2 separate regions of the Homo sapiens genome follow, and region 1 is linked to region 2. Evidence: fine-mapped expression QTL. A gene starts in region 2. The other region holds a variant in brackets. All regions are shown on one strand. Distances are from middle to middle.

Region 1 (2,807 bases), 49 kb after region 2:
TGCACTCCAGCCTGGGTGACAAAGTGAGACTCTGCCTCAAAAAAAAAAAAAAAAAAAAAAAAAAAAACAAATAAAAAAGAATATTAATGACCTTCCACTGCTTATAGGATGAAGAACCCCCTCCTGCCAACCTAATTCCTGCCACAAACACCCCACACACTATGCTGCAGCCACTCAGCTTTTTAAAAGCTCTGTGACAATACTAAAGTCTTCCCTACCCCAGGGCCTTTGCACACACTATTCCCTTTTCCTGGAAGGCTTTTGCCCTTGCTCTTCATAAGGCTGGCTCAACTCAACCTTCAGGGCTTGCCTTAAATGCTGCCTCCTCAGAGAGGCTCTTCCTGGCTACTACCTTACTATAAAGTAGGTTTCCCCTATTATTGTCTGCAACCTGTTTGCTCCACAGTATCTGCTGTACATGCATTTCTCTAGCTATTTATAATCATCTCCCTCAATAGACTGCAAATTCCATGAAGATGTTTTATTCACCAATATACCCCAGCACCTGGCACTATCAATAAATATTTGTTGGATGAATGCATGGCACTCCCCTGACCCTCTGAAATTGATGGAATCTCTCTGCACAGGGAACTCTGGAGGCTTCTTTCTCATCCTTAGGTCCTCATCATGTTTTCCCTGAGTTACTGCGCATGGACCTGCCTCCTTTCTCTGATCAACCTGGGCTGCCGTCATCACTCTCCTTGGCCGCTTCCCTCAGACCTTGCTGACGTAGGCCCGGCCCAGAGGAGATGCAGGAGCACTTGTTTGATGATGGAGGAAGGAACGAAAGAAAAGCTGCCTCATCATCGCTGGTTTGATAGGACCAAACTCAGGGGACACGGAGGCACCCAAGACGTACCTTACTGGGCATTTGCTTTTCACCCTGGAAGGTGTTAGTTCAGCTTTGATTGTCTCTGCGTGGAGAGAGGGCATGTGTCTGAGGGGACTGAAGGGAGGTTCTGAGGTGGGAGAGAGCATGCTACTGCACACCCCCAGGGTGGAGACGTGTGGGAGGGTGACGTGTCTGCAGTGAGTGTGAAACCATGCCTGAAGGGTAGAGTAAGTGCGTGTTGAA[A/G]ATGTGTGTGCATCAGGGCATGTGCGTGTTATAGGAGTGTGAGGCGCTCAGCGTATGTGGGTCTCAGGACTGTGTGAGTTGAGGGTCGGCAAGTGTGAGATGGGAGCTTCTGCCACAGGCGTGCGACAGTGTGTCTGAGGACTAGAAAAGAGCCCCAGCCTCGGAGCCATGTAAACCCAGGTTGGAGCCTGAACATCACAACTTCCTGGCTGTGTATCAGGACTGAGACTCAGTTTTCTTATGAAAAAAATGGGGAAGTGATAGTTCCTACATGAACGAAAACAACCTCCGAGCCCGCCACTGAGCCCAGTGCTGGGCACTCTTGAAACTCTTTTGGGAAAAAATAAGATCTCTTAGGAAAGCCCAGAAGGTCAGGCAAACCTGGGTTCCAAGCTCAGCGCCAGCCCCCGCAGTCTGTGTGACCTTGGATTGATTACCCAGCCTCTCTGGGTCTCGCTTCTGCATCTGGAGAATGTGGCGATTCGTACCTATGTTATGTGGTCCTTGTGAGGATTAAATGTAATAATGCACATACAACACTTAGCACGGTGCCTGGCATACAGTAAGTGGGCAATCAATAAGTGCTAATAGCTCTCAACAGGCTGCTGGATTAAAGCCAATGCATTAAATGTGTATGGGGTTGATTAAAAAGCCTTTCATTCAAATTTAAAAATCATTCACCGTGTCAGTAGGGTGTGGAAGACCTCACTGGGTAGCAGTGGCTCTGGCTGACCACAGGTTTGGCCTGATCTGAGGCTGTTTACAGGAAGCTGGGATCTGCACACAAGGGGCTGTGGCCCACTCTAGAAGAGTCACCATCTCTCTACCCCAGGGCCCTCTGAGACACCAATTGAGAGAGGGAAATCACCAAAACTTAGAGCAAAGGCTAGGCTCAGTAATGTCGAGGGACCTGGAAGTTGAAGGAACGGGAGAAGTTCAGGCTTGAGAAGAGGAGGCTGGGAGGAGACTCTAGAGTCATAATCCAGTCCCCAGCAAGCTTCTTTGTGGAAGACACAGCATAGGCTTGTCCAGGGGCAAGGGATGTCCAGGGAGCAGCGCCAAGGCCAGGGCAGAGCTTTGCTCTGCTCTTCTTTACTTAGACAAGATCCCTAAGAGGTGGATTTCCACTGGCCCTAGGTGCTCCAGGGTGGGCAGAGGGGCCTGGATACCTCTCCAGGGCTGAAGCTGGACTTCAGGGGTTGGGGGGAGGAGATGTAAGCCTCTCTGGCCCTTGGCTGGTCCTTGTGCCCTATGGTTACTCCTGGACACAGTGCTTGGTGTCTCATGGTTACTGTCATACTTCGTGCAGCTGTGCCACCCTAAAAATAACCTATTATCACTCTCTGGATGAAGATGAGAAAAGAGCCCAACTTTGTGTGTCAGGGGTCTCTGGCCTGCCTGACTGGAAGAGAGATGCCTCTGGAGATCAGACAGACTCTTGGGGAGTGGGAAACAACAGCTTCCCTCATTCCCCAGGCAACCTCAGATGCTCCTGTCCACCCCAACATCACCACTCAGGGTAGTGAGACGATGGCAGGGGCACTGAAGTTTTCAGGAATTCCTCAGCCTGGTGAACTCCTGCCCCTCCTTTGAGTCCTAGTTCTGATGACACCTCTGGTACAAAAACCTTCCCGGACTGTCTCTCTTCTATGCTCCCACAGCCCTTGAATCCGCTTTTTTCAGAATACTTGTCACGTGGATTTATCCTGGCCTGCTCAAAGTCTGGGCTGTA
Region 2 (2,807 bases):
CCTGGGAGGCAGAGGTTGCAGTGAGCTGAGATCACGCCACTGCACTCCAGCCTGGGCAACAGAACGAGACTCTGTCTCACCAAAAAAAAAAAAAAAAAAAAAAAAAAAAAAAAGATGTTCAAATAGACATGATATTGGTAAAAACGAAAACACAGGTAATGACTTTTCATTCTAATGAAATATAAATAGAGAAACCTGCCGGTTTTACCCTTTAGAGTAAAAAGGGTACAAAAAAATTACCAAAACAGTAAAAATTACCAAAAGAGTAATTTGATAATTTCTACAGGGTGATGTGTATGTGTCACAACTTTGTGAATCACTATTCTGGGCATGTATAAGAAGTCGTCATATACCTCCATTGGGAATGTTATTTAATGATGTCACTAATACCAGACAAGGATGTCTCCTCAGGTAAGGCTCCTTGGAGGAGGCAGAGGTTGAGAAGAGGTGTAATTTAGGTTTTAAAAATTCAATAGCTGGACTTAACCTTGCATATCTCTACCTGTTATAACGGTGGTCCGGAAGGCTGCGATCTGAAGGCCCCTCAGCTAGTTGCTGCCACTGTGGGCACTCTGCGCATCTTTCACTTCTGAGCTCTTTCTGTATGCACTCTGTTCTGCAGATAAGTGAGAATGTGACTATTTGCTTAGTCAGTGACAGTGTCTCTAACCCTGGAAAGGAAGCTTTTACTCTCTCAGTTTTAGAGACATGTGAACAGGCTGGGGATATGAGGTCACTTACCCACTGTCTTATAATCAGCAGATGGCATGGTTGGCATTGGAGTTTAGGTCTGTCTGTGCTTTTCTGTACATTACATCCTTTTTAATGATGCGAAGGAAAAATGCAGTAGGGTCAATGAGACAAATGGAATGCAGGTTGCTGGGGAAAGAATGCAGGTTCTGCGTTATAAATGCACACACATTTACTGTGCCACTTGGGTTCTGAACTTTGCGGTTAAATTGATTTAAAAACTGGTGTAGAGGTGGTAAAACTTAATCACCGAATGAGAATATTTGGGTTTGCTTCAGGAGGTCGCAAGCCACTTCTTGATTAGTAGAAATGGGAAATTAAGGGCCACCTTCAGGCGTTTAACTGAATTGTCCTGGGGATTTAATTTGCCTTTCGACTTAATGCTAAATTTTTGTTGTTTTTGGTTTTTAAAGTAATGTAAGTTTATCGCGCCAACGGTAAGATGTCGCTCTGGACGCGTGCACCTGCTCTCGCAATCACCGACTGCGGTCAGCATCTTCCTTAGAGCAGCGCCCCGGGCCACTTGGATCCCGGTCTCAATTTACTAAGCGAACCCAGAGGATGCCCCGAGTCCTGGACCGCAGAGCCGCTCGCGAGAGGCACCGGGGCTGTAACCGCGCAACCTCGTGCCGCGGGCGGAGGCGAGGGAGGATTCCCCGGCCGGTGCCCGCCCCCGGGCTAAAGTGCGGCGCGGGTGGGGCTGGTCACGCGCCTGGCTTCCTGCAGTGCGAACCTGGGAAATCCAGGCGACTTCGCAGTTGCCGAAGGGATCTGAAGAAGTGGGATGTGCAAAAGCGCCGGCTGGAAATCCCGGCTGTGTCTCCGTCAACTCTTTACGCAACAGAGGTCTCCCCCTGCCCTTGGTTTCTACCGGGCCGCCTGCTCCCACTCGGCGAAAAAAATTACACAACAGCAGCCGCGGCGATGACGTGGAGGGCTGCCGCCTCCACGTGCGCGGCGCTCCTGATTCTGCTGTGGGCGCTGACGACCGAAGGTAGGGGGCGGCTGGGGTGGGCTGGGGCGGGGGCTCCTGGCGCCAGAGGGTCCTCGCGGGTCGGCTCCCTAGCATCCCGCCAGGGGACCTCAACTTCCTGGGGGCTGAGAGCTCTATTTTCTTTTCTATTTCTTCTCCTTTTTTTTTTTTTTTTTTTTTGAGACGGAGTCTCGCTCTGTCTCCCAGGCTGGAGTGAAGTGGCGCGATCTCGGCTCACTGCAAGCTCCGCCTCCCAGGTTCACGCCATTCTCCTGCCTCAGACTCCCGAGTAGCTGGGACCACAGGCGCCCGCCACCATGCCCGGCTAATTTTTTGTACTTTTAGTAGAGACGGGGTTTCACAGTGTTAGCCAAGATGGTCTCCTTGACCTAGTGATCCAGCCGCCTCGGCCTCCCAAAGTGCGGGGATTACAGGCGTGAGCCCCCGCGCCCGGCCTGGGGGCTCTATTTTCAAGCGTCCCTCCTTTGTGAGAAGCGGAGTCCCCGATGCAACAGGTTTACATTGAAGGCCTGCCCTGTGCAGGGTCGACACCTGTGAGAGCGGAAACGGTGCTTCCTTGGATGTCGCGCGTTTGGTGCCTCGGTATTTGGCGCCTCTCTCGCATCATCCGAGGGGCCGGAGGAGAGAAGAAAATCAGGGAATCGGTAAATTGGAAAAATCATTCATCCGCATATCAGTGGGTCCTCCTGGCTTTGCTAAGTTAGGTCTTTACTGAGAGAGGGAGGGGAGTGTTTTGATCTTGTGGTGACCTTCAAACGTTCTCTTGCTTTTTTGGGAACTCGTATGGGCGTGTTCTGCGTTAACTTAAACAGGAGACTAAAAGGCTGAAACGCGTATGTAGAGATATTTAAACTCATTTCTAACTAGAAGAATGGCAATTAAACAACAAGATGCTGCTTGACCCTTACTAGGCTGGCCAAAATACGCTCCTGGGTGCCGGGTGGTGGAGGTGGAATGTAGGAATCCCGGAGGCGCGCTCTGGGCGCCCCGAGTCACTGCAGGTGGAGGAGAGCCGCGTGTGGACCTCACCGTGGAGACCTTGGCGGCAGCTTCACACCACGCC

Direction of the effects. Positions count from the first base shown, and alleles are read on the strand shown. Sizes are in standard deviations (SD) of each study's normalised expression.
As copies of G replace A in region 1, the expression in monocytes after LPS of the gene that starts at base 1,505 in region 2 goes down (moderate effect, 0.48 SD a copy in Fairfax 2014).

The links. PIP is the estimated chance that this variant, and not a neighbour inherited with it, causes the effect. A credible set is the group of variants that fine-mapping cannot tell apart.
Region 1: its variant is the best candidate, but not a certain one, in a credible set for the expression of NCR3LG1 in monocytes after LPS (Fairfax 2014, PIP 0.87).

What each region holds. Positions count from the first base shown.
Region 1 is chr11:17,399,238-17,402,044 of GRCh38, forward strand. The region is part of intron 29 of ABCC8 (ATP binding cassette subfamily C member 8); the gene reads right to left. Among named protein-coding and RNA genes, the nearest start is that of KCNJ11, 12 kb to the left of the region's middle. The variant A/G (reference allele first, on the strand shown) is at 1,076.
Region 2 is chr11:17,350,296-17,353,102 of GRCh38, forward strand. NCR3LG1 (natural killer cell cytotoxicity receptor 3 ligand 1) reads left to right here and starts at 1,505. Exons shown (of 5, transcript NM_001202439.3): 1 at 1,505-1,744. The coding sequence starts at 1,675. LOC105376576 (a long non-coding RNA gene) reads right to left here and starts at 1,571. Exons shown (of 3, transcript XR_931094.3): 1 at 1,484-1,571; 2 at 742-879; 3 at 518-616. RefSeq lists a silencer at 1,327-1,446 and enhancers at 1,443-2,044, 2,045-2,646.